6 separate regions of the Homo sapiens genome follow, and regions 1, 3, 4, 5 and 6 are each linked to region 2. The links come from fine-mapping of genetic effects on gene expression. A gene starts in region 2. Each other region holds a variant in brackets. All regions are shown on one strand. Distances are between the middles of the regions. Region 1 overlaps MCF2L (MCF.2 cell line derived transforming sequence like). Region 2 holds the start of MCF2L (MCF.2 cell line derived transforming sequence like). Region 3 overlaps LOC124903214 (a long non-coding RNA gene). Region 4 holds the start of LOC124903214 (a long non-coding RNA gene). Region 5 overlaps MCF2L (MCF.2 cell line derived transforming sequence like). Region 6 overlaps MCF2L (MCF.2 cell line derived transforming sequence like).

Region 1 (4,086 bases), 120 kb before region 2:
GGGAGTGTTTCTTTTTTAAAACTACTGTTCTACGGATTATTTATTTAGGCCATATCCTGTTCCATGAATGATTAAAGGTAGCTTATATAAGAAACAGGATAAAGTGAAAAAAATAAGTGGATGAACAAAATAAAGAAAAAACAAGGGCAGAAGAGACACGACGAAGCCACGGTCAGGGTCGGAGTCTGAAACGTGCCCACGTGTGTGCTGGGCCATCAGTGCCGGCTCCCAGCTGAGCCCCGACTGTCTGAGGAGTGCTGGGGCGTGGCTGTGATCTGGACAGGCCATGTGCGCACTGCCGTGCTGTGGAACAGCCCACCCCGGGAAGAGCTGGAGAGGGACTGGGCATTGTCGGAGGCACACATCTGTGAAGTACACCCTCTGGGACGGACCCGTCAGCACATAAACACCAGGGGCCTCAAGGAAAACCCCAATAACCACAGGGTCCCACTGACAGAGGCCGAGGACCCTGGCGTGCAAATGGCCTGCTCGGGACTGCTCCAGAAACGCAGGCCTGCGGCAGCGTGTCCATTCTCACCTGGTGCTGGTCGGGGCCGGCAGGGGCAGGCTCTGTGACTGCTCCAGCGCCCGGTGCTGGCTGGCTTCTGCGAGGAGGGAGCAGACAAACCACGTGAACGAGCGTCTTTACTTCAACGCCGAGGCACCTTGCGCATGGGGGGACTGTGCGGTTGCTCTGAACATAGGTAAAAATGCACCTGGAGCGGAAGCTACGGGAAACGATCGCTTGAAGACAGCCTCACCTCTACAAGCCTGCAGCTGGCTGGTCAGCACTTTCCGAATTTCATTCACCCACGCGGCTTTAATCTCAGGAGTTGGCGCCTGTTTCCCCAAAAGAAACGCCAGGAGGTGAGTACTCAGGCCCCCGAGGAAACACGCTTTGGTTTCACTCTCGGAACATCCAAAGATAATCTTAGGAGTCAAAGGTCAGGTGGCTGCGTGTGAGGGGAGAGGAGGAAAGCACTGTGGGTGGCCCCGCATTGCGGGACCCTCTGTGCCCCATGCACGGGACTGACTGAAGAACTGTGCCTGGCACCCAGGGCACGGCACCCTCCCCACCGTGAGAATCGGCCCTGCGTGCCAGATGCACACTTGCACCGTCCAGGGACACATGAGCTCCCCTGGGGAGGGAGAGCCCGTTTCCTCGCAGCACCCCGTCTGATGTGTACTTTTCCCCACATTTCATTCTGGGTCCAGCTCAGGGTGAAGACAGCCCAGGGCAGCATCCTGAAGTGTACAGCGGCTGCTCCTGGGCTCGATGCAACTTCATGGCAGATCCTTGCACTGGTTCCCATGAGAAACCATTCGTGGCAATGTGTAAGAGGCCAGGGGTAGGGTGGGTGGCCCACCTGGACGATGTAGACCTCCTCGCGCGCGTTGTACCAGATCTCGAACTTCTTAGCATCTCCCTTCACGTTCTCCGTAATGCCAACGGCAGCCATCTGCGAGCAGAGAGTGGAGATGGGGTTCGCGTGCACAGTGAACCCACTGCCTTGTTTTTAAAAGGTGTTGGTGCAGGCACGAAATGATGGAAATACTTTGGGGGTGAGGGCTAAGAATGGCAGAATACCCCACCCCTACACCTAAGGCTGAGAGCTGGGTGTCAGCGTGGCCACCTCAGACCGAGTTACAGACTTCCCCCGTCGGGGTCTGTGGCCAGGAGCGTGCTGCTGCAGACCCGGCCTCACTTACGTTTAAGGACTGCTTGTAGCTGTAGGAGGGAGCTTTCTCATACCCCTCCCCATTCTCCTCCCTCTTCTTGCAGAAGAGCACTGCCTTCTCGTGCAGGAACAGGTGCCGCTGCATGGGCTTGAACCTGGCCAGCTCCTTCACCTTGGTGTGGCCCCTCTTGTGGTCGGTCCAGACGCTGAACGAGCCCTGCATCAGCAGCTTGCCCAGGTCGCCGAGATTCCCCTAAATGTGCGACAGCAGGGCTGTGTTCAGGACGGGATGGGCCTGGGGCCATGGACGCGCATCGCTGAGTGAAAGCAGCCACTCTGCAAAGCCCACCCACGGTGGGATTCCAGCTGCAGGGCGTCCCAGGAAAGGCAAGCTCGTGGAGACTGACAGGTCAGCAGGTGCCAGGGGCTGGGGGAGGAGGGATGGACTGGCGGGGCACATGGGCTTCTAGGACAGTGAAGCTGCTCTGTGTGATGCTCTAGCGCTGGGTGTAGGATGTTACAC[G/A]CCTGTCCAAACCGCAGAATGCACAGCACCCAGAGTGAGCTCCAAGGGGAACGGCCCTCAGTCACTAATCAGCATCAGCGCTAGTTCACCATGTGTGGCAGGTGTGGCACCCATGCTAAATGTCAACACTAGGGGAAGCCTCAGGGCCTCTGATTTATACTCAATTATCTCACAAACCAAAAATTGCTGCAATAAATCAACTCTATTAGTTAAAAAAAAAACACCTGAGAATGAGTGCTGGGTGGACATAAAGACGGACAAAAGATGAATAAGCTGTGACCTGATGTGGGGCTCTACGGGGAAAGTGACATCTGCCTTCTGGGGCCACTTGCTCTAAGTCACCAGCCTGCAAATCGCAGCCCAGAAAACAGAAGTCACGTCTGCTCCGAGCCACGCCTCCTCCCCAGGAGAAGACAAGGAGTGAGGAGGTCTGAGCTGCGTTCCTGCTGGAGATGCGTGCCCTCCAAGCAAGGGACGCTTCCTGATTTTCTCCACGTCCCAGAGAGCCCAGTGGGGTCTGTGGACCCGGCTGTGGGGTCTGTGGACCCGGCTGTGGGGCCTGGGAGTGGGCTTATCTAGGGACCACCCCAGACCTCCTGCCCAGAACCTGCACATTCACACCAAAGCGAGGGGCGTGTGCAGGGAGGCCGCCAAGTTGCTGGGCTGGTGTATTCCACGGAGGCGGCGGGGAAGACCGGGCATCTGGGCGCCTTACGTCATAGCCGGTGATAGCGATGAGGTGCATGGAGTCGTTCACGGCCTTCAGGATGCCCAGGATGGAGCTCAGCGCCTCCTGCAGGTCCTCAGCCCCCTCGCAGTTCCTGCTGTATTTCAGCATTTCCTGAGGGGCATGGGGTGAGGCAACCGCGTCGGGACACGGAGAGCCCTGGCTCCCCTGGAACAGACCCCTCAGGAGCTTGGCACGAGGTAGGGATGCTGCTCACCCTCCCCTGGTCTGTGGGGAGCTGCCCTGCCTGCCCTCCTGCAGCTGGGACAGACTGAGTGGTGCTGCAGATGGGGCAGCACCCCTGCCAGGTGCAGACCCTTGGCACCTGCTCCCCGGGGAGCTCCCTCCTGCCACCCGGATGCCAGGTGCAAACCCCTCGCACCTGCTCCCCGGGGAGCTCCCTCCTGCCACCCGGATGCCAGGTGCAAACCCCTCGCACCTGCTCCCCGGGGAGCTCCCTCCTGCCACCCTGATGCCAGGTGCAAACCCCTCGCACCTGCTCCCCGGGGAGCTCCCTCCTGCCACCCTGATGCCAGGTGCAAACCCCTCGCACCTGCTCCCCGGGGAGCTCCCTCCTGCCACCCTGATGCCAGGTGCAAACCCCTCGCACCTGCTCCCTGGGGAGTTTCCTCTCGCCACCCTAACCCTGGCCAAAGGCATGGAGTTGCAGTTTCCTGCCTGAAGGTTAGAGGGACCCACATGGCAAACTCATAGCTGGAATCCCCAGTCTAGGCCGCCCCACGTCCCTGCTGTGTGCCAGATAATCCGGGCACGGCTCCACCCTGGAGGGACGGGTCAGCACATCACACAGAATCCCATGTGGGCTGGGCTGTGTGCCAACCCATGGGGACGGGGACTCGTCTGCTCACCTGCGTCCTCAGACCCCTAACAGTGGCGCACAGTAGGACCTCGAAAGGCATCCCAGCCTCAGCACAGGCTCGGAAGAGGTGCCCTTGGCCTGGGAGGGGCAGGGCGCGATGGGGACGGGGCCCCAGGGCGGCACAGACACCTGGCCAGCAGGTGCTGGGGAGGCCGGGCCACGGTCACCGCGGAGCCCACCTTGAGCAGCAGCTGGTACTTGGTGATCCTCTGCACTGGCTTCAGCAGGTAGGAGTCCAGGCTCAGCTTGTGGTCCAGCTTTCTCTGGCATTCCTGGA
Region 2 (4,086 bases):
AAAACACAGCAGCATGTCCTGGACAGCAGCAAAGATAAAATGCCTGTGGGTTGGGGGTGAATCTACAGAGGGTGAAGCTCTGCACAGCTGAATGAGGCAGCTGCTCTAAGGCCAGCCGCTGTACGCAATCCCTCAGCTGTGACCTAGCCCCGCCACTGCCCTGAGGACCTACACCAGCCGCCACATCAGTGTCCTGTTGCCATCAGCTTTTACCTGGCACGGATCCTAGCATGACCCCAGAAGGAGAAGCAGCTCCATGACCTCCCGCTGAAGAGTGTTTGGCTGCAGGTGGGGAACTCTCCTGAGGAAGTGCTTGGAATTTAAACCCGAGGTGGGGATCAGGTTTACCTTGACCTTCACCCCTACCAGAGAATGTGCACCACATACCCGTACACTCTGTGGTAGCATCATGTCAATACTGCATCATAAACCCCCTCATGATGGTTTTACAGCCTTCAACCTAATAACTTGCCTCCGCTGAGCAGTACCTCACACAGCGTGAGCAGAAAATGGGTTTGTGCTGAAGGAAGAGGCCAGTGTTAATGGGTGGTAAGTGGAGTATGATGCAGGGTCACCTCCCCTAACTAAACGCTACAGGGTGCTCATAACCGAGGATATCTGGTAAGCTGGACTTGAAAGTCCTGGTGAAGCATGCAATTATCGGTAATGCAGATGTGTGGGAGGACGCACATCTCACTGCCTGTTCCAGATGAGACGATGGCCCACACCGAGCGCCCGGCTCGCACGACATTCAGTGAGCAGACAGTGTCACTGCTGCTCTTCTGAGATAGCCTTTTTCCAATTAAAAATGCGCACATGTCTCTTGGAGCTCATGAAGAAACCCCAATCCCTAAAAACCTGGGGAATGACATCAGCCTCTGGAGCGGTTCCCACTCTGTGACTCTGACACCGAACGGCACGCAGAGGCATGCAGAGCAAGGGGGGCTTTCTCCTCCACCCCCACAGCCGATCGGAAGCCTCCCTGTGAACCTGGCATCCACGCAGCCCTTCACCATACTCAAACCCTGCAAACCCTGCACGGAAAAGCTCCACTCAAGCTTCAGAAAAAGAGCTGATTCTCTAAGAATCAGGGAGCAGACGGCATGAAAATGGTTTTGTTTTCTTTCGACCCACATACAATAAACCCAGCAGCTTTGATCATAAAAGCCCCCATTAAAAACATCTTGATTAGACCATCCCATACGATGGTGCTTATGCTGATTTAATCACTGGTTCACTCTCAGAATCCATCGGGGTGGGCAGAGAAAGAGAACCACACCCAAACCAAGCAACTGACATTTTAATCTCCCAGGCAAGTACTAGTTAGACAACTAGTAATGGCATATATGACATAACATATGGCAACATCAGGCAAAACACTTGGCAACTTACTTTTAATGATATATCATTATTTCCTCTTCATTTCAAGGAAAACGAGTTAAGGATGCCTCTCCCTTCTGCATAACACAGCCTGAGAACTCAGATGCGACCGCCTGAAAGCCACGGCCAGATGCAAGCTGTCAGCCCAGTCTCTGCTTACACCTAAAAGAATCGATCTGAACTACTCTTCAAAGCTTATTTGAAGTAATATTTCGATTAATACTGAAAATGAACGTCCAGTCCACTCTTTACCCATACCGTCTCAAACATCTGTCTTAGGTTTAAATTGCATTTAATGAAGAAAAGAACCACCTGATTAGTCCAGGTTTTTTCATCCTCAAAACGAGCTTCCAGGTAGCTTCACCATCCCTACCCCTGGCTCTGAAACCCCAAGCTCTGAAAGCCCTTGGCTCAGATCATTCTCCATTCGCAATGCATTCTCCATTGCGAGGGCTGCGGACAGGCAGGTTGATGGGCAGACTTCAGACACACAAATGGCTCCGCATGCAGACCCAGCAACCCTGAGAGAGCCAGTGTCACCAACGTGCAGTCATTTTGACTATCCCGGGCAGCATACGATCGCCGACAGCCTCTGAAAACACACCAGCTGCCAACCAGTGCCCCCCATGTCACAGCTACCACGGCTAGAAAGGAACACGAGGGCGGCTTACAAAAATCAGACGCATTTCCCCACATTTCAGCCCATGATGTCAAGCTTAAGCACAGATCACTGACGGCCAGCAGCTCCTCCTACCCGTGTGCTTGGAAACCGCATTTAATCTCTGCACCATTTCTTCCAAGGCCATCTCTTCAGTCCTCAGCCAAAACCTCATCCTCCGACACAACAAAAATGATCCTGGCAGATCCGCTTCCTCCGCACGGGGGGCGCCTGCGGGTGGGGCCGTGCGAGTGCGGAGGGGGCGCGGCGGAGGCGGGGAGGGGGCCACGGCAGCGCTTTCAGCCTCCAGCCGCCGCCTCCCTGCCCAGGATTGGTTCCGCGCCACCGGGAGGGGGGCGCGCGCTGCGCCGCGGGGGGCGGGGGGCGGCTCGGCGGAAGCGGAAGCGGCGCGCGCCCGCCCCGGTGTGTCACCACCGCGGGTCACCTGGGAGTCCTGTGAGTGCACCGCCGGGGTCACCTGGGAGCCCCGCGTGTCACCGCCGCGGTCGTCGGGGAGCCCCGGGGCTCACCAACGAGGTCACCTGGGAGCCCCGCGGGTCACCGCCGCGGTCACCTGGAAGTGTCACCTGTGTCACTAGGTCACCTAGTGTATCACACAGGTCACCTAGAAATTCGTGTCACCGCCAAGGTCACCTAGAAATTCGTGTCACCGCCGAGGTCCCCTGGGAGCCCCGCGGGTGCCGCACAAGTGCCCCCGCCCTTCCCCCCGGTTCCGGGTCTCCACGCCCTCCTGGTTTGCGGGCAGCCGCGAAGCCGCGAGTGGACCGAGCGAGTGCAGCTGCCTCCGCGGGGCCGCGCCTGGCCGCCGCCTCCCTTTACCTCCGGCCGCCCCGTGGCAGGTGTAGAAGCTGCAGAGGCCGCAGCAGCCCAGCGCGCCCCTTCCGTGTGGCCGCATGCCACCCGCGCCGCGCCCAGGTAAGCAGGTCCGTGGGTCGCTGGGTCCATGCGTGGGTCCGTGGCTGGCCGGGGATGGACCAGCCCCTCCCCGCAGGGGCATCGCCTGCCCAAGGACGCAGGACCCAGTGAGGGAAGCGCGCGCTGCAGGCACGGGGCTCTCCACCCTCGCCATGGTTGGCACCAAGCCACACTGTGCACTCGACACACGCAGCGTCCTGGCTGCCACCTGCAGATTCCAGCTCGTGTCTATGCAGGGCCATGGCCGCCATCACAGGGCCATATGCAAGAAACTCTCTGAGCTCTCCTCGCCCAAAACCGCAGCTATCCTTTTGTGGTTTGGTATTATAGGTAACATGCCCTTCCTTAAAGAAACAGTATTTCAGGCCTGTAGTCCCAGCTACTCCGGAGGCCGAGGCAGAAGCTGAGGCAGAAGCAGGAGGATCATTTGAGCCCAGAAGTTTGAGCCTGGGCAATGTAGCAAGACCCCCCCCCCCACCTCACTCCCCAATCAGTTAAAAGAGAGAGAGAGAGAGAGAGAATTCCAGCAGGAAGAAGTACACATTTCCACGAATGGTTTGGGAATTCAAGCATCATATGGCTGAGGTTTGAACTACAGCTCATGCCAATAACATGTGCACATGCGCCAGCATTCCAGCGTCCAACAGAGCATGCGTGCACCATTCCAGCATCCGGCAACAATGCACCAGCATTCCAGCGTCCAACAGAGCATCCGTGTACCATTCCGGCATTTGGCAACAATGCACCAGCATTCCAGAGTCCAACAGGGCATGCGTGCACCATTCCAGCATCCGGCAACAATGCACCAGCATTCCAGCGTCCAACAGAGCGTGCGTGCACCATTCCAGCATCCGGCAACAATGCACCAGCATTCCAGCGTCCAAAAGAGCATCCGGCAACATCCCGGTGTCCAGTGGCACATGTGCACCTGGACGTTCCAGTGTGGTGAGCTTTCAGGCACGGAGCAAGGCCAAAGGGATAAAAAGATGAAGGTGACGCAGTACTCCCCCTTATAGTGCCTACAGGCCTTATAGGCCAGACAGATCTGGAAATAAATAATTCATAATAAAAAATAATTACAGAATAAGAGGCATAATAACCAGATAGAAAGT
Region 3 (4,086 bases), 46 kb after region 2:
CTTTACTAGATATAGGAACATGCACGGAGCAGTTTATCACATCAAACGTATGTATGTACCCAGTGACCACTGCCCAGGTCAGCTAAAGAACATTTCTAGTACCCCAGGAGGCTTCCTGGCCCCTTCCCAACCAATATTTCCCAAGAGGTAGCAGCCATTAATACTATGACCACTACCAGAGAAGCTAGTTTTGCCTGATCTTGAGATTGATGTGTGAACTGCAGGCATGTTGTAGTGGTTTATTTCTTCTCGTGTAGCTTTGTGGGGTATGAATATGATGCCCTTTATTTAACCCGTTTTCTCTTAAGGCTCCTAGAGGTTAGGGTGTCCAGCGTGGGGCTCCTGGGCATCAAGCTGCTGTGAACGTCCACATACGTACACGTACAGAAGTACTCCTTCCTTTTGGGTGCACAGTTAGGGTGGAATCGGAGGGCAGGCACATGCTTAGCTTTAGACCCTGTCCATGTTTTCCAAAGTGGTCATAGCAATATGCCTTCCCACCAGGAAATGTGAGCACTGGTATCCCACTTCTGCACCAACCACTTGGAATAGCCAGTCTTTAATTTTAGCCACTCTGGTGGACGAAGAATGGTACCCTATTGTGGTTTTAATGTACATTTTGCCCTTGAATCATGATGCCAACCACATTCTCATATGCTTATTGGATATGCCTATTGGATTACTTTTTACATTTAAATCACAGGTCCATCTGGTACTTATCCAGGTGAAAGGTGTGAAGAAGACCTGACTTTCATCTTTTTCCATGAGGCTATCCAGTTATCCCAACACCATTGATAACCAAGGTCATCTTTTCCAGCACGAAATTTACATGCTGCCTTGAGCTACATGGATCTTCCCCAGGCAGCCTGATTTGCTTCTGGATTTTTATTCTGTTCCATTCACCTGTCCTTGTTCTTATGCCAGGATCCACACCATTTTCATTAAAGAGGCTGTATAGAAAATTTTAACGTCTGGGCAGCCCATTCCCCTCTGATACTCTCCAGGGTTTTCTCAGGTGTTCATGTTTGTTTCTCTAAGTGGGTTTTATGATCAACTTGTCTAGCACCCTGAGAAAGAAAAAGATGATGTGTTTATTGGGGCTCCTTAAGTGTATGCATTAATTCAGGGAGAACTGATGTCTTTGTCATGTGGAGCTTCCCTATCTAAAGCTATCATATACCTTTTCCATGTGTTCAAGTCTTCTGTGTCTCAGGAGTATTTTATAGTTTTCCTCGTATCAGCATTTATTAAACGAGAATGCTAAAAACAGAGGTACTTTATTTTTGCTACTATAAATATTATCTCTCCCATTAGATCTTCTCCTTGGTTTTTGTTCCTACCTATGATTTCTACATGTTAAGCAGCAGGGTATAAAATTTATTAATTCCCTTATTTTTTTGTAGCATTTTATCCAATGATTATTTTGGGTTTTCCAGAAATGTAACAACTGCATACGGAGAAATTGAAAATAGAGATAATGAAAAGGAAAAGGTAAACTCCCGTGTCTGTGCTGTCTCTGTAGCCCAGCTGCGTGTGGGGGCACTCTAACGACGACACATCGTGGGGGGGTTGTGGGGAGCTTCACTCTGTTCTTGGCTTCAGTGGGAGAGCTTCCAGCATTTCCTGCTGAGTAGGATGCTGGCTTTGGGGATAATGTGTGTGCGTATTTTTAGGTCATGTTAC[A/G]GAAGCTCTCCCTTCTTAACCATGTCGTCAAATTTAACACCACCAGTAACGGGATAAACCGGTCTCGTATGCTTCCTGATAGGACGCTCTGGGAAGGACACATCAGCATTTCTGGGCCAAAAATGCATCTCCTGGATTTAGCAATAAACATTAGACAAACCCCAATTTAGGAATGTTCTACAACATAACTGGCCTGCCCTCTCCAAAGTGGCGGTGTCATGAAACAAAGAAATACTAAGGGGCTGCTCCAGAGTAAAGAAAGATAAAACACAGGACAACTGAATGCAGCTCCTGCTCCAAATTCTCATGCTCCTGAATTTTCTTTTGCTTTAAAGGACATTTAGGGGGACAACTCATAGACTCTGGATCTACATACAAAACAGCAGTGATTAGAGAAGAGTGTGTTGAAGTTAATTACCTATTAGGTTGCTGCAAAGGTAATTGTGGGTTTTGCCATTCAAAGTAATGGCAAAAAACAAACAATTTGGAGAATTATACTCTAGTTTTATAAGCAAACAAATATATTTGTTAAGAAGTAAACACTGGCCAGGTGCGGTGGCTCACACCTGTAATCCCAGCACTTTGGGAGGCCGAGGCAGGTAGATCACCAGGTCAGGAGATTGAGACCATCCTGGCTAACACGGTGAAACCCCATCTCTATTAAAAATACAAAAAAATTAGCCAGGCGTGGTGGCGGGCGCCTGTAGTCCCAGCTACTCGGGAGGCTGAGGCAGGAGAATGGCGTCAACCCAGGAGGCGGAGCTTGCAGTGAGCCGAGATCTTGCCACTGTACTCCAGCCTGGGTGACAGAGCAAGACTCCGTCTCAAAAAAAAAAAAAAAAAAAAAAAAGAAGCAAACACTGAAGTTCATGGAGATAAAAGGGTAGCCTGTCTGTCACGTACTCTCTGACACCTAGAAAATAATAATGTATATTTGTGTAATATGCACACATGAGAGAAGAAAGCAAACATGGTGAAACATAATATTGAGGAATCTGAGTGTCTTATATACGAGAATTCTTTGTGCTACCCTTGCCATTGTTCTGTACATCTGAAATTGTTAAAATAAAGGTTACAGAAAAAAGTATCCACCAATTCCTATGACTGGATTTCTTTTAACATAAAGAGGCACCGCATTTGTCGAGTGCTTTTTCCACATCTATGAAACTTACATGATTTCTCTCTATGCATTAATGGATTCTAATGTTAACCATCTTTGCATTCCTTGAATAAACCCCTAATTGTCACGATGGTTTTTGTTTGTTTGTTTGTAGAGATGGAGTCTTGCTCTGTCGCCCACGCTGGAGTGCAGTGGCACGATCTCAGCTCACTGCAACCTCCGCCTCCCAGGTTCAAGCAATTCTCCTGCCTCAGCCTCCCAAGTAGTTGGGACTACAGGCACGTGCCACCACGCCTGGCTAATTTCTTCTGTGTTTTAGTAGAGACAGGGTTTCACCGTTTAGCCCAGGCTGGTCTTGAACTCCTGAGCTCAGGCAATCTGCCCGCCTCGGTCTCCCAAAGTGCTAGGATTACAGGCGTGAGCCACTGCGCCTGGCTGATGGGTTTTTTTTTTTTTTATGTGTTGTGAATGCTTTCAGATTTTTACTTCAATGCTGAGAAATGAGATTGAGATCAGTCCATAGTTTATTTCTGCCAAAGTACTATGTTGCCAGGTTTGGGGATCAATGTTGAAATCACTACATAAAGTGACATTAAAGGACAGAAAAAGAAAACCTCACAAAGCAGTTTAAGTTGCACTGAAATTGTATGATCTTTAGAGATCTGGAAGACGTTCTGTGTGGAATAATCTGGCTTGCTCTTTCGGGGAAGAGCTCTTTCCTTTCCCCATTTATTCTAGACTTTGGCTCTATCAGTATCAAATTTGGAAAGCTGTAATTTTCTGAAAAACTATCTGTTTCTTCTACGCTTTCAAATTTATTGAGTTTTGGTTGTACAAAGTCGACTACTATATAAAGTGCCCTCTGGCAGGGGCTGCTCCCGGCCCACACGTTTCCAGCTCTGGGCCTCTGGACTTTTCCTCCATTCACTGTGAGCTGGGGCCTCATGTGTCTCTTTCAAAACAGCTTTTAGATTTATTATTTTTATTATTTCTATCCTTATTTTCTGCTTTTATCTACTTTTTGTGGCTTGTTTTATTGTTCTTTTTCTACCATTTTTATGTAGGTATTTGCATCCTTTTTACATTTTTACTGATATAAGTATTGATATAATCCTCCTGACACTCTCTCCTGCCATATTTCATAGATTTGCTAAGTTGTGTGTTGTACTTTTAGGAACTCTCCACTTTAGCTGGCATGGCCTCCAACTCAAAGGCTGCTTAGCGGCATTTTTGTTTTGTTTCTTTTCCAGCCTTCTGATTTTATTCTTAACGTCTAGGACAGT
Region 4 (4,086 bases), 38 kb after region 2:
ACCACACAGACCTCTCTGCACACAGAGCCCAAGGAGACGGCAGCCTGGGCGTCTCTGAAAGTCCCATTGGATCAGACACACAACTGGAGCCAACCCCTGCGGGGCCAGCGCCCGGACCTCCAGGAGGCTGTGGGTCTCCCAGAAGGCTGTCGGCCCAGCACTCCTGCTCCTCAGCTTGTGGTTAAGTTCGTTTCTTTCTTTTCTCCTTCCTTCCTTCATGTTTATTTATTTATTTATTTATTTATTTTGAGATGGAGCCTTGCTCTGTCACCCAGGTTGGGGGGCAGTGGCACAATCTTGCCTCACTAAAATCTCCACCTCCTGCGTTCAAGCAATTCTCCTGTCTCAGCCTCCTGGGTAGCTGGGATTACAGGTGTGTGTCACCACACCAGGCTAATTTTTGTATTTTTAGTAGAGACGGGGTTTCACCATGTTGGCCAGGCTGGTCTTCAACTCCTGACCTCAGATGATCCACCCGCGTTGACCTCCCAAAGTGCTGGGATTACAGGTGCCAGCCACCGCACCCAGCCAAAGTCGTTTATTTCTCTTTTGCTAAAATACAGATACCTATGAGGGGCCACACAGGCCCACTGACGGTACTGAGATGCTTCTTTTTTAAGTAACTTTGTTTAGCTTTGTTTAGAACAGCTTTAGATTTACAGCAAAACTGACATAGAACAGGGCTCCCACACACCCCTCCCCCAGTGTCCTCCAATATTCATATCTTAAGCTTATGGTGCCTTTGTTGCAATTAATGAGCCAATATTGGTACATTATTATTAACTATGCACAGTTTATTCAGGTTTCCACAGTTTTTGCCTAATATATTCTTCTGTTCTAGGATTCAGTCATCCTGTCTCCTTCAGCTCCTCTTGGCTGTGACAGCTTCTCAGAGCTCCCTTATTTTTGATGACTTTGACAGTTTTGAGGGCTACTGGTCAGGTATACTGGAAGCCTCTGTTGGAACTCTGACGTCCTTCTCATGATTGGAGTGGGGAGGATGTGCTTGGGGAGGAGGACTACAGAGGTAAAGTGCCATCCCGGTCACGCCTTACCCAGGGCACGAGTCTACACGCCTGGTCGCCATCGGTGCTGACCTCGATTGCCTGGCTCAGGTCGTCAGGTCCTCTGCTGGGAAGTTACTCTTTCTCCCTCTTTTCGTCTTGAACTCTTCGGAACCACATAGCTGCGCACATCCCACACTCAGGAAGTAGGGTTCTGAGCTCCCCTCGTGACAACAACTCATCTACATGAAGGATGGGGAATTCTTCTGCAAGGGAGACTTATCTCTTGTCTCCAGTCATGTATTAATATCTATTCAATCATTTACGTCAGTGTGGACCCACGCTTCTTCATCTTGTTCTTGGGGTTATAATACAACGCGACTTGACTTTGCTGCTCAAATTGTTCTGCTTTGGTCATGGGGAGTGTTCGGTGGTTCCTGCGTCCCTCTGGCCTGCCCCCATCCACGTGGGTTTGGGTTTTGTTTTGTTTGTTTTGTTCCTCCCTTTCTGTCACTGTAAGATGATCCAGTCTCATCTTGCATACTTCCTGCCTCCATCCTGGAATCTGCGGTTTCTCTAAGAAGCCCAGTTGCTTTTACTGAAGAATGGAATTAGAAACCAAGATCTGGCCACTGGGGACGCTCGTGGACACTGGCTGCTGCTGCTTCCAGGCCCTCTCAGCTGTCAAGGTGAGGAGAGGCAGGCGTGTGCTATGGGATGTGCACAGTATTTCTGTATGTCGCCACCTGTATCTGCACTAAGCTAAGCGTCAGTTCACACTGACGCCGCACACCTGCTCTGTTACAACACGGGTGTAGCCTCTCCTGGAACAGTGAGAAAGCAGCTCCCATCCGCAGACAGCTGCTCACCTAATCGCTCAGTTTCAGCTTCCGGCAGAGCAGCGTCAGCACTGCCGACCTGTATCTAC[G/A]GGAAACGACGTAATTAAGTGGAGCCTGGGGCGTTTGTGTGGCTTCTTTTGCCTCTAGTCTCACAGACCCCACTCCTGCCCAGAGTCACGCAGGTCAGCACCCTGTTCCTCTTCTTCCGTGAGGCGGTTTCATGCATCTTCAGCACAGGTTGGCTCTCTGCCTCCTGTGCAGGCAGGAGAAAGGGATGTGGAAACACAGAGTGCCACTCCCTCCCCACTGGGAGGCCCCAGAAGACACAGCCAGGACTCTGAACCTCTGTTTGTCATCTGCACGCTGAACCGCTCAGGTGAGAGGCGCGTCCTGGCTCTAACACGCTCCAGTAAAGCTGGCTTGTGTCTCCTGGTTCCTGCATTCCTTCCGGGGACCCCTCTGACCTCCGAAATGATTTTTACTATTTATTTATTTATTTGAGACGGAGTCTCACTCTGTCACCCAGGCTGGAGTGCAATGGCGTGATCTTGGCTCACTCCAACCCCTGCCTCCTGGGTTCAAGCAATTCTCTTGCCTCAGCCTCCTGAGTAGCTGGGATTACAGGCACGCTCCACCATGCCTGGCTAATTTTTGTATTTTTAGTAGAGATGGGGCTTCACCATGTTGGCCAGGCTGGTCTCGAACTCCTGACCTCAAGTGATCTGCCCTCCTCAGCCTCCCACAGTGCTGGGATTATAGGCATGTCCTAAATAATTTTTAAATTTGCAGGTATTAAGATTTACTCTGTGCTGTGCATCTGTATGGGTTTTGACAAATACATGATATCATATACAGTAGTTTCACTGCCCTAAAATCCCCAGAGCTCCACCTACTCACCCCTCTCTCCTCTCAGCAACTATGGATTTTGTCACTGTCTCCATAGTTTTGCCTTTTCCAGAATATCACAGAGTTGGAATCATACAGTCTGTGGCCTTTTCAGATTGGCTTCTTCCTCTTGGCAATAAGCATCTAAGTTTCCTCTATGTCTCTTCATGACTTAGCCCATTTCTTTTCACTGCTGAGTAATATTCCATCATCTGCATGGACCACAGTTTGTTTATTCATCTACTGAATGACATACTGGTTGCTTCCAGGTTTTAGTGCTTGTGAATAAAGCTCCTATAAACACTTATGTGCAGGTTTTTGTATGGACATGTTTTCAACTAGTTTGGGTAAACACCAAGAAGCAAGATCACTGGACTGTATGGTAAGAGTGCATTTAGCTTTGGAAGTAACGGCCATACTGTCTTCCCCACTCCCTCCGCTCCATCCCAGTGAACGAGAGCTCCCCATGCCCTGTGTCCTCGCCAGTACCAGGCGTTGTGAGGTTTTGTGGAAGCCGATGCTCTAACAGGTGTGTAGGGGCATATGTAACTCTCTAATGACAAATGATTCTGAGCATCTTTTCTGGCACTGGTTTTTATTAGAGCGTTATCCCAGCAACGGCTTTCAATGACAAATGGGAAGAATGAACGTCACAAAACAGGGGTCATCTGGGAAAGAAAGGATCGCCACAAACGGAAGAAAACAACAAGCAGCCAACTGCTAACTCAGCCACAGTGACCGTCCCAAGTCACTTCCCGAGCCTGTGGTCACTCCGCCATCCCGACCATGCAGTCCGTGATGCAGGCGTCATCATCTGCTTTCTGCAGAAGAGGAACCCGAGGCCGGAGGTTCTGGGCAGGGTGCTCAGGATGCTGTGGCCAGCGGTAAGGGGCCAGGGTCTGGAGCTCCACCCACCTGGTGATTCTGACACCTGCTGTGGAGGGGCCTGAGGGCAGGGGCAGACTCCATGCACTTCACAGATTTCATCAGGAGTGTGAAGAGTTAACCTGGAAATGAGTTTCAAATGAACTCCCTGTTGTTTTTCCCAAGTGGTTTTACTAATGCATTTAAGAGAAGGCGGAAAGGGCAGGCTCCCATCCCGATAAAAGATAAATGGCTTTATCCCATTTCCTGGCCTATAAGTGGCAGTGTGCCAAGAAGACCAAACTGCTGACAGCGTCCTGCAGCCACGAAGTTGAACAAACCGCAGCGTTGCTGCAGCCGCGCAGGAATCGGGGAAAGAGATTCACATTAAGGACAACCACGAATCCAGGAATAAAGAGCAAACACCCCTTTGAAGAGGGAGACCCAGTGGCCATTTATGGAACCAATATAAAACTGATCAGGTAAGTCCCTGA
Region 5 (4,086 bases), 92 kb before region 2:
AGTGGAGTCCCCACTCTAGACTGATACGGTATTTAATAAAACATGATGTGGTGTCAAATAACCCCTGAGCTAAACCTCAGGAGACCCATTTTGTGGTCCCGTCTGACTGCTTGCAAAGCCAAGCCTAGATTTTATCCAAACCCTGGACACCGTGGGTGGCTGTGTGGACAGGGGCGCCTGAACGCTGTGGGCAGCTGTGTGGACAGGGACGCCTGAACGCTGTGGGCGGCTGTGTGGACAGGGACGCCTGAACGCTGTGGGCGGCTGTGTGGACAGGGGTGTCTGGACACCGTGGGCAGCTGTGTGGACAGGGACGCCTGAACGCTGTGGGCGGCTGTGCAGGCAGGGGTGTCTGGACACTGTAGGCAGCTGAGCGGATGGGGGCGCCTGGACATTGTGGGTGGCTGTGTGGACAGGGGCGCCTGGCTTCGGACCTGTGTGGACCCAGATGTGGGTCCCACTCGCCCGCAGGCCAGCCGCCCACTCTGTGTCTCAGCTGCCTCCTTCGTAAATGGGCACGTTGTGCCTGAGCTCATCATGCCACGGTGAGCAGCAAATGGTGCTGTTGGAGGTGCACAAAACTCCACACGAGTGCGGCCTGTGATGGCCAAGGACATGCAACAGGCGTTTACACCTCCTCCAGCAACATCATCAAACAGTGCTCTGATGGGAGAGATGATCATTTTTGTCCCTGTTCCTGCCGAAAATACCCCGCGGTCATTGTAGACACCAGTTGAAATCAACACACCACCACTGAGGCCGGACGGGGAGAGTGGCTGGCAGTTCCCACACGGTTATGGTTATGTGGAAAACCTGTGGTTGCGACGGCCGCATAAGCTCCTCTACACACGCCTTGTCTTCATTTTTCTGCATTTCTCTTGCCCTTTTTGAGGTCACTCCATCCATGGGTTTGGACAGTCAGTCACGGCAGCAGAGGTGCCGGGGCCACTGTTCTCCCTCATGTCTCCTTTCTATGGCTGAGTCCAGCACACGGCACTGAAACACGGACACACACGTGTCAACAACTGCATCCTTCACATCATCCACTCTAATTTCAAGAATTATCTAAGTGGGGCTGTGAGTTTGAAGATGCCGGTGATTTCTGTGAAACCCATTTTGACGGCTTGCTGTGGAGCCGTTGTGCAGGGGAGCCTGTGGCATGGATGACCCGTGAGGTCGGTCTTGCTCCCCGTGACACGTCTGTGGTCACAAAGCCTATGGCTAGTGTGCAGTGCCTGCCAAATAGCAGGGAAGGAGGGCGCACGGAGTTATCTCCATCATAAGGGCCATAACACACACAAGCCACCAAGAGAGTAGCTGTCTGCGGGGCGCTGAGCTGCACAAGCCACCACGAGAGGTGCTGTCTGCAGGGTGCTGAGCTGCACACGCCATCACGAGAGGAGCTGTCAGAGGAGCTCTGAGCTGCACACGCAATGCCTAGCTCATCCTGGTGTCAGGACATGAGCCTCCCACTGCCCACGAGTCCCTGCTCTGCACGGTTTTGTCGCTGGTCGTCTCTAGGGAATGGACTGTTCAGACACTAAGGCTTCTCCAAGGCTACAAAAAACGGTACATGCACAGAGTTTCCCAATGGCTTGGAAGCTGGTGGTTCTGGGGCCACCAAAGCACGATGGCACAGAGCCCCATGGGTGCCATGCAGAACACCCTGCACCTGCAGTTACTGCCCCAGGCCAGGCACCAGGGTCACGGGTGACACCCAGAGTGGACTGCGTGGGGGTGGGCAGAGTGGATGGGGCCTTGTGACCCCCAGGGCTGTCTTGGGTAGGGGGAGAGGAGGAGGAAGGGGAGGAGGAGGGGGAGGGGGAAAAGAGGGGAGGGGAGGAGGAGGGAGGGGGAGGGGAGAGAAAAGAGGGGAAGGGGGAGAGGGAAGGGAGGGGAAGGGGGAGAGGGAGGGGAGGGGAAGGGGGAGAGGGAAGGGAGGGGAAAGGGAAGAGGGAGGGGAGGGCAAGGGGGAGGGGAGGGCAAGGGGGAGGGGAGGGGAGGGGAAGGGGGCAGTACATGGGGAAAGGCCCCAGGCCGTTTTCTTCCCTGTCAGAGAAGGGCTCTTGCACCTTTGGCATTGAGGCTGTAGCGCAACGAGGGTGGGGAGGGAGGGCTGGTGCCACCTGATTCCCAGCGCACAGGGAGTAGCTTCACAGTGAGCGACCTGCACCCCAGATTGCCTGGTTTCCAGTAGCATCTGGCTGGTGCCATGGGG[T/G]GCTCTGCGGTGCCTGGTGCTGGCCCATATGTCTCTGTTCTCTTTGTGGCAGAGAAGATGTGAGCTCGCCAAGGCAGCTGACCAGGGCTCTCCGGGGGAGCTACACAGCTCGGGCTGGTGACCGGGCTCCACAGGCTCTAAGGGACTTTGTGAAGCCTTTGTTCTTTAAAGGACAGCAGATCAGGACTGAAGGTGCTTTCTCAGTGGGCAGTGTTGGGAGATGCTGCCCTGTGCCGGGATAGTGTGGTGGCGATGGGGCAGGGGTCACCCTGTTGGCTGCTCCAGGACAGGTCCGGCCCATCCCTGTCAGCAGTGGGTGCTCCCTCCCAGGTCCAGAGATGCTTACAGCCCCCTCCCCAGCCCTTCTCTCATCCCTGGGGTGCAGGCAGGGCCTGGGCTGAGTTCCTCGCGGGTGGGCCAGGCGGACTCTCAGCCCTTAGGGTCTCAAGTTCTGTAGTTCTCCTGGGGGTATGAATGTCGCGTGACCCGCGTCCTGATGGGATGCCCACACGGTGGCCTCTCTGAGGTTGATGCTCTGTGCACCTCTGGCGGGGTGGGGGCTGGGGGCGGGGGTGGGGGAAGAAAGGATTGTACTGCTTCTGGCAGCATTGAGGAGGTGCAACTTCCCGCCAGGTCCTGCGGGGTTTTGTTGACCGTGTGGCCCTGAAGTCAGCTCCTCGAGGATTTCGATGATCACAGATGGGCCAGGACGGCAATGAGTTCCGTTCTGCTACCGCAGGATGGAGGCGGGGCGCACTTACCGGCACCTTCATCTTAAAGTCATCTCTATTGAATTTGAAAGCGATGTCGGAGAGAGTCCTTTGGAAAAAACCCGTCGGGCGAAGCACGAGGACGAGCTGCAGGTTTGCCGGGAAAGATGCCTGTGAGAGAGGGCGAGAGACAAGGGCCTGCAGCGTGCTCTGCAGACAGCAGCCCCCCTAGTGCGGTGCCTGCACGCTGGGCTGACCGGGGGCGCGCAGCTAGCGGCCAGGCATCCTCAACGCAGCAGGTTTATGCTGAGATAAACATGGTAGAGATGCTGGCCTCTGTGAAAGGCATCTCTTTTCTAAAAGAAAAGAGGAAAAGCCTCATGTCTTGGCAGAACGTTATGCTGCTTACAAATGTAAAAGTCCAAAGCTTACGACAGTTGTTAGGGGCTGAGCTGTGTCCCCCCAAATTATGATGTCGAAGCCTAACTCCCAGTGCCTCCGAACGTGACCTTGGCTGGTGACGCGGTCTTTACAGAGGTAACCAAGCTAAAGTGAGGTCATTAGGGCAGGCCCTGATCCCAGCACCGCGTGGAGAGCTCCCAGAGAATTTGCTGGTGGAGGCCGGGGCGGTGCTTCCACACCCAGGGAGACCCAGGAGGCAGCCAGACCAGAAGCTGAGGAGAGGCCTCGAGCAGAGAGACGCTCCCCATAGCCTTGGAAGGAGCCCCCTCCGGCCACACCTGAGTTCAGACTCCGCCTCCGGGGCTGGGAGGGAACAGCTTCTGTGCGCCCAGTGGTCAGTCTGTAGTTACTTTGTTACCATGGCCCCAGGAAACCAAGACACTTGTCAAATTTTATAAAAGCAACATAGACACATGTGTGTGTTACCTACAAAAATAAAAATAATCTTGTGCCCTGGTGTGCACACACGGCCTTGGACACAGTTACATGAATTTATTTGGAAACTGGCTCTGCCTCTTACAAGGCGTGGGAACTTGGGTAGGTCACTCCCCTTCTCTGTGTCTCAGCTTCTCCATTGGGAAAGTGGGGAGACCGGCAGTGCCTACTCATGACACCCTTTCGAAGATGAAATGGACCAAGGCGTGCGTGGCGTTCAGTGGACACCTGCACCAAGGAAGCGCTCAAAAGCCGCGATGA
Region 6 (4,086 bases), 110 kb before region 2:
GGGTTGGCGTGGAAATAATTTCTGTGTTGAAAGGAAAATTCAGCTTGACCTCCCAACTGTGTGTTTCTCTCATATGCCTATTATTTGGTAGTAATTCATTAAATGGGCCAGGTGCGGTGGCTCACACCTGTCATTCCAGCACTTTGGGAGGTTGAGCTGGGTGGATCACCTGAGGTCAGGAGTTCGAGACCAGCCTGGCCAACATGGTGAAAACCTGTCTCTAATAAAAATACAAAAATTAGCCAGGCTTGGTGGTGGGCGCCTGTAATCCCAGCTACTCAGGAGGCTGAGGCAGGAGAATTGCTTGAACCTGGGAGGCGGAGATTGCAGTGAGCTAAGATCGTGCCACTGCACTCCAGCCTGGGCGACAAGAGCGAGATTCCATCTCAAAAAAAAAATAATAATAAATAAATACAAATAATTCATTAAATGATTCTTTCAAACTTCCCACAGAGGAATGCCTCACTGCTCGGGACAGCAAGCTGCAAATGGAGAGCCCGAGTCAGCGTTACCATGAGATCTTGGTTGAGGATGGATTCGTATTCCTTGTAAATCGCGTTGAGCTCCTGGATCTTATTTTCCGCACCGGTCTCCAAAAACTTCTCGATTTCCTGGAGGGCAGCCTCCGCGCCGTCCTGGGACTGGCACTTGTCCACAGGTTGTGAGGCCAGCAGGTAAATCCCTTCATCACACCACTTCATGGACTGGAAACACAGAGCATTGCCGAGGGCAGGACGCCGTGAGAGGGTGAGAGCGTCACCCTGTCCAGGCACACACTGCCGGGGTGTCCTCCCGACAGATCCCGGGCCACCGACTCCTCGTGCTCCCGCCACCCTGTCCAAAGCACCCCAAGGGGACACAGTGCTGGACAAGGCCAATCCCAAGGGGACACAGTGCTGGACAAGGCCAATCCCAAGGGGACACAGTGCTGGACAACACCAGTGAATTACCCAGGGCGGGGCCTGGAGAGGCAGGGTAAGTGCAGTAGGATCAACCAGGCCTTAAGCTTCTGGATCTTTTAAAGAAATCATTATTGGCTGGGCAGGGTGGCTCACGCCTGTAATCCCAGCACTCTGAGAGGTGAAGGTGAGAGGATCACCTGAGCCCAGGAGTTCGAGACCAGCCTGGGCAACATAGTGAGACCCCATCTCTATCACACACACACAAAATACAAGAATTAGCTGGGTACGGTGGCATGCACCTACAGTCCCAGCTACTTGGGGGCTGAGGTGGGAGGATCCCTTGAGCCCAGGAACCAGAGGTTGCAGTGAGAAAAAAAAAAAAAAAGAAATAAAACTGTGGCAAATGAATTCTAGAAAAAGACCCTCTAGGCCAACAAGACCAGAAACGAAGGGTGCAAGGACATTTTCCAGCCAAAGAGCTGCCCTCCCCACGACAAGGGTCAGCCGGTGGTGGATGTGGGAGGAAGAGGCTGGTTCCGCAGCTGGGGGGGAGTGGGGTGGGGTCCGGCTCGGCCTACCGTCTCCAGGCGGCGGTGCAGCTCCAGGGACTTGCTGAGCAGCCCCCTCCTCCTTGCGATCTCCGCAGAGAACTGGTCACAGAGGTGCCGGAGCTCCTGGCACTTTGGGCGGATGGAGTCTACCGCGTAGTGCTTGTTCCCAATGAGCTGCTCGCCGTCCAGAGACAGGGCCCGGGCCCTCTCCACGGCCACCTGTGGACGGCCACCCAGAGGACCAGCTCAGGCCTCTTTCTGTTCGAGGCACACAGTGCCTTGCTGTACGGGATGTGTGTCCCGGGGCACACGTGTGTCTTGATTTCTTTGTTTACTGCTGCGGATGCCTGAGATGCTGCTTAATCCCCGAAGCTGTTCTGTGGCAAGTGCTTCTGGGGGCTGTGGTGGTCCCAGCAAAGGCATTGACCGTCTGCAGGGA[C/A]CTGACCCAGAGGAGGCCGGGCAGGGCCATGTGCTGTGGGTGGGGTGTGGGAGGGGAGGGGTACAGGCAGCAGCACCCCCCACCCCATGGACATCCCCGGGGGGCTGTGGGGTCCGTTCTCCGTAGGCGGGAGGCCCATTCCTGCGCCTTCCTGAGCAGCACTTGATGATGCTGCCCACACTCTCCCGCCGCCCCCGCCGGGACCCCGCCTTACGCCTGATTTCTCCTCGAAGCTGGCCAGGTCCCTCAGCAGGTGCTCCACATGCGCCAGGCTGTTGCCGATGTCTGTGAAGGTTGCTATCTTCTGGGACGCTGCGTCCAAGATGGCTTTGACCTGGAACAGAGGAGGGCCCATCTCAGGGGGGTGTCTCCCTCACCTGAACAGAGAGAACCCACTCCAGTGCTCCAGATCAGGGAAATGACAGAATTCAAAGTCGGGCCAAGTGGTCATCAATCAAGCAGGGACCACAGTCAGACAGGTGCAAAGTCGGCCCCGAGTGGTCACCAATCAAGCGGGGACCGTGGGGCCTCTGGGTCGACGCTACCCACCAGTGACCTCACTGGCAGAACAATTGTTTCTCTGTGGCTTGTGTGTGCCTCCGTTTATCAACCACACGCCTGAAAACAGCATGAGGAGAAGATGAGATCACGCAAGGACAAAGGCCCTGGGAGCCGAAAGCCAGCAGCAATATGGACACTGGAATTGTCAGCATTCCTACTGGATCCTAGGTGTGGAGAGTTATGTAACTCAGTCCCTTCTAGCTTGCTACTAACTTCTAATGTCTACGATTTCTGCTGTTGGCAGGAAGACAATGGGTGTCATAGAAATGATTTTTATTTTAATTTTTAATTTTTTTTTTTTGAGACGGAGTTTTGTTCTTGTTGCCCAGGCTGGAGTGCAGTGGCGTGATCTTGGCTCACTGTAACCTCTGCCTCTCTGGTTCAAGTGATTTTCCTGCCTCAGCCTCCCAAGTAGCTGGGATTACAGGCACCAGCCATCACGCCCAGCTAATTTTTGCATTTTTAGTAGAGATGGGGTTTCACCATGTTGGCCAGGTTGGTCTTGAACTCCTGACCACAGGTGATCCACCCGTCTTGGCCTCCCACAGTGCTGGGATTACAGGTGTGAGCCACCATGCCTGGCCTGATTTTTAAAACATATGACCACTTATTCCTTTAAATACAAAAGCTTTTAATTTTTGTTATTGGAAATGATCCTGAGAATGGGTGTGTACGCAGACATCCCAGTGCCAAGGGGGTTGTAGTTCAGATGGCCTGGGGTTGAAGGCCAGGAAGGCAGGATTCTTGTCCATCCTTGAACCCCCTGCATCTGGCACAGCTGATGAGTGAGACTTCTCTCCATGTTACGCACAGCCACTGAGTTATGGATAATGCACCACCTCTCAGAAACTAGCTCGGATATAGAAGAACTCAATACCATCAACCAACAGGATCTAACTGATATGTATAAAACTTCACCTAACAATAGCAGAATACACATTCTTTTCAAGTGAGGAACATATACCAAGAAAGACCATATTCTTGGGCTGCAAAACAAATCTCAACACATTTATAAGAACAGAAATCATACAGAGTATGTTCTCTGATTACAATGAATCAAACTTGAAATCAAGAATGGAAAGACAACGGGAAAATCTCTGAACACTGGAAGCCAAACAACATACATTTAAAGAATGGATGGGTCAAAGAGGAAGTTCCAAGGGAAATTGGAAAAAAAAAAAAAAAAAGCTGGAGTAAATGAAAAAGAAAATACAATACATCAAAATTTGTGGAACACAGCTAAATCAGTGATGAGAGGGAAATTTATAGTGTTCTTATTAAATATGTATGTTAGAAAAGAGGAACAGTCTCAAATAAAGAATGTAAGTTCCCACCAAAGCAATTTGTAGAAATAATAAAGGTAGGATCAGAAATCAATGAAACTGAGAACAGAAAACAACAGAGAAAACTAATGAAACAAAGAACGAGTTCTTTGGAAAGATGAGGAGTGATACATCTCAATCTAGATTGACAAAGAAAAAAGGAAAAGATGCAAATTACAAATATCAGAAATGAAACAGGGAATATCACTACAGACCCTGCAGACGTCAAAAAGATAAGAAAGAATACTATAAACAACCCTACACATTGCCTTGAAAAGCACACTACTATATCTCATTGTGAAACAGATAGT

The links. PIP is the estimated chance that this variant, and not a neighbour inherited with it, causes the effect.
Region 1: its variant is fine-mapped to the expression of MCF2L in whole blood (TOPMed, PIP 0.92).
Region 3: its variant is fine-mapped to the expression of MCF2L in whole blood (TOPMed, PIP above 0.99).
Region 4: its variant is fine-mapped to the expression of MCF2L in whole blood (TOPMed, PIP above 0.99). The same link has a PIP of 0.9 or more in blood mononuclear cells.
Region 5: its variant is fine-mapped to the expression of MCF2L in spinal cord (GTEx, PIP above 0.99). The same link has a PIP of 0.9 or more in hippocampus and putamen.
Region 6: its variant is fine-mapped to the expression of MCF2L in whole blood (INTERVAL, PIP 0.95).

The regions. Positions count from the first base shown.
Region 1 is chr13:113,085,081-113,089,166 of GRCh38, reverse strand. It overlaps MCF2L (MCF.2 cell line derived transforming sequence like), which reads right to left. Exons shown (of 30, transcript NM_001112732.3): 20 at 3,989-4,081; 21 at 2,918-3,043; 22 at 1,711-1,932; 23 at 1,368-1,460; 24 at 762-840; 25 at 539-605. Among named protein-coding and RNA genes, the nearest start is that of F7, 19 kb to the left of the region's middle. The variant G/A (reference allele first, on the strand shown) is at 2,203.
Region 2 is chr13:112,967,507-112,971,592 of GRCh38, reverse strand. It overlaps MCF2L (MCF.2 cell line derived transforming sequence like), which reads right to left and starts at 2,379. Exons shown (of 30, transcript NM_001112732.3): 1 at 2,135-2,379. The coding sequence starts at 2,213. MCF2L-AS1 (MCF2L antisense RNA 1) reads left to right here and starts at 2,955. Exons shown (of 1, transcript NR_034002.1): 1 at 2,955-4,086. RefSeq lists a silencer at 2,444-2,503 and an enhancer at 2,705-3,224.
Region 3 is chr13:112,921,705-112,925,790 of GRCh38, reverse strand. LOC124903214 (a long non-coding RNA gene) reads left to right here. Exons shown (of 2, transcript XR_007063877.1): 2 at 1-2,933. It also overlaps a transcript of MCF2L not described here. Among named protein-coding and RNA genes, the nearest start is that of MCF2L-AS1, 45 kb to the left of the region's middle. The variant A/G (reference allele first, on the strand shown) is at 1,684.
Region 4 is chr13:112,929,193-112,933,278 of GRCh38, reverse strand. LOC124903214 (a long non-coding RNA gene) reads left to right here and starts at 1,927. Exons shown (of 2, transcript XR_007063877.1): 1 at 1,927-2,219; 2 at 3,331-4,086. It also overlaps a transcript of MCF2L not described here. RefSeq lists an enhancer at 3,096-3,938. The variant G/A (reference allele first, on the strand shown) is at 1,933.
Region 5 is chr13:113,059,606-113,063,691 of GRCh38, reverse strand. MCF2L (MCF.2 cell line derived transforming sequence like) reads right to left here. Exons shown (of 30, transcript NM_001112732.3): 5 at 2,980-3,099. Among named protein-coding and RNA genes, the nearest start is that of F7, 44 kb to the left of the region's middle. The variant T/G (reference allele first, on the strand shown) is at 2,219.
Region 6 is chr13:113,072,584-113,076,669 of GRCh38, reverse strand. It overlaps MCF2L (MCF.2 cell line derived transforming sequence like), which reads right to left. Exons shown (of 30, transcript NM_001112732.3): 10 at 2,107-2,226; 11 at 1,481-1,672; 12 at 513-704. Among named protein-coding and RNA genes, the nearest start is that of F7, 31 kb to the left of the region's middle. The variant C/A (reference allele first, on the strand shown) is at 1,893.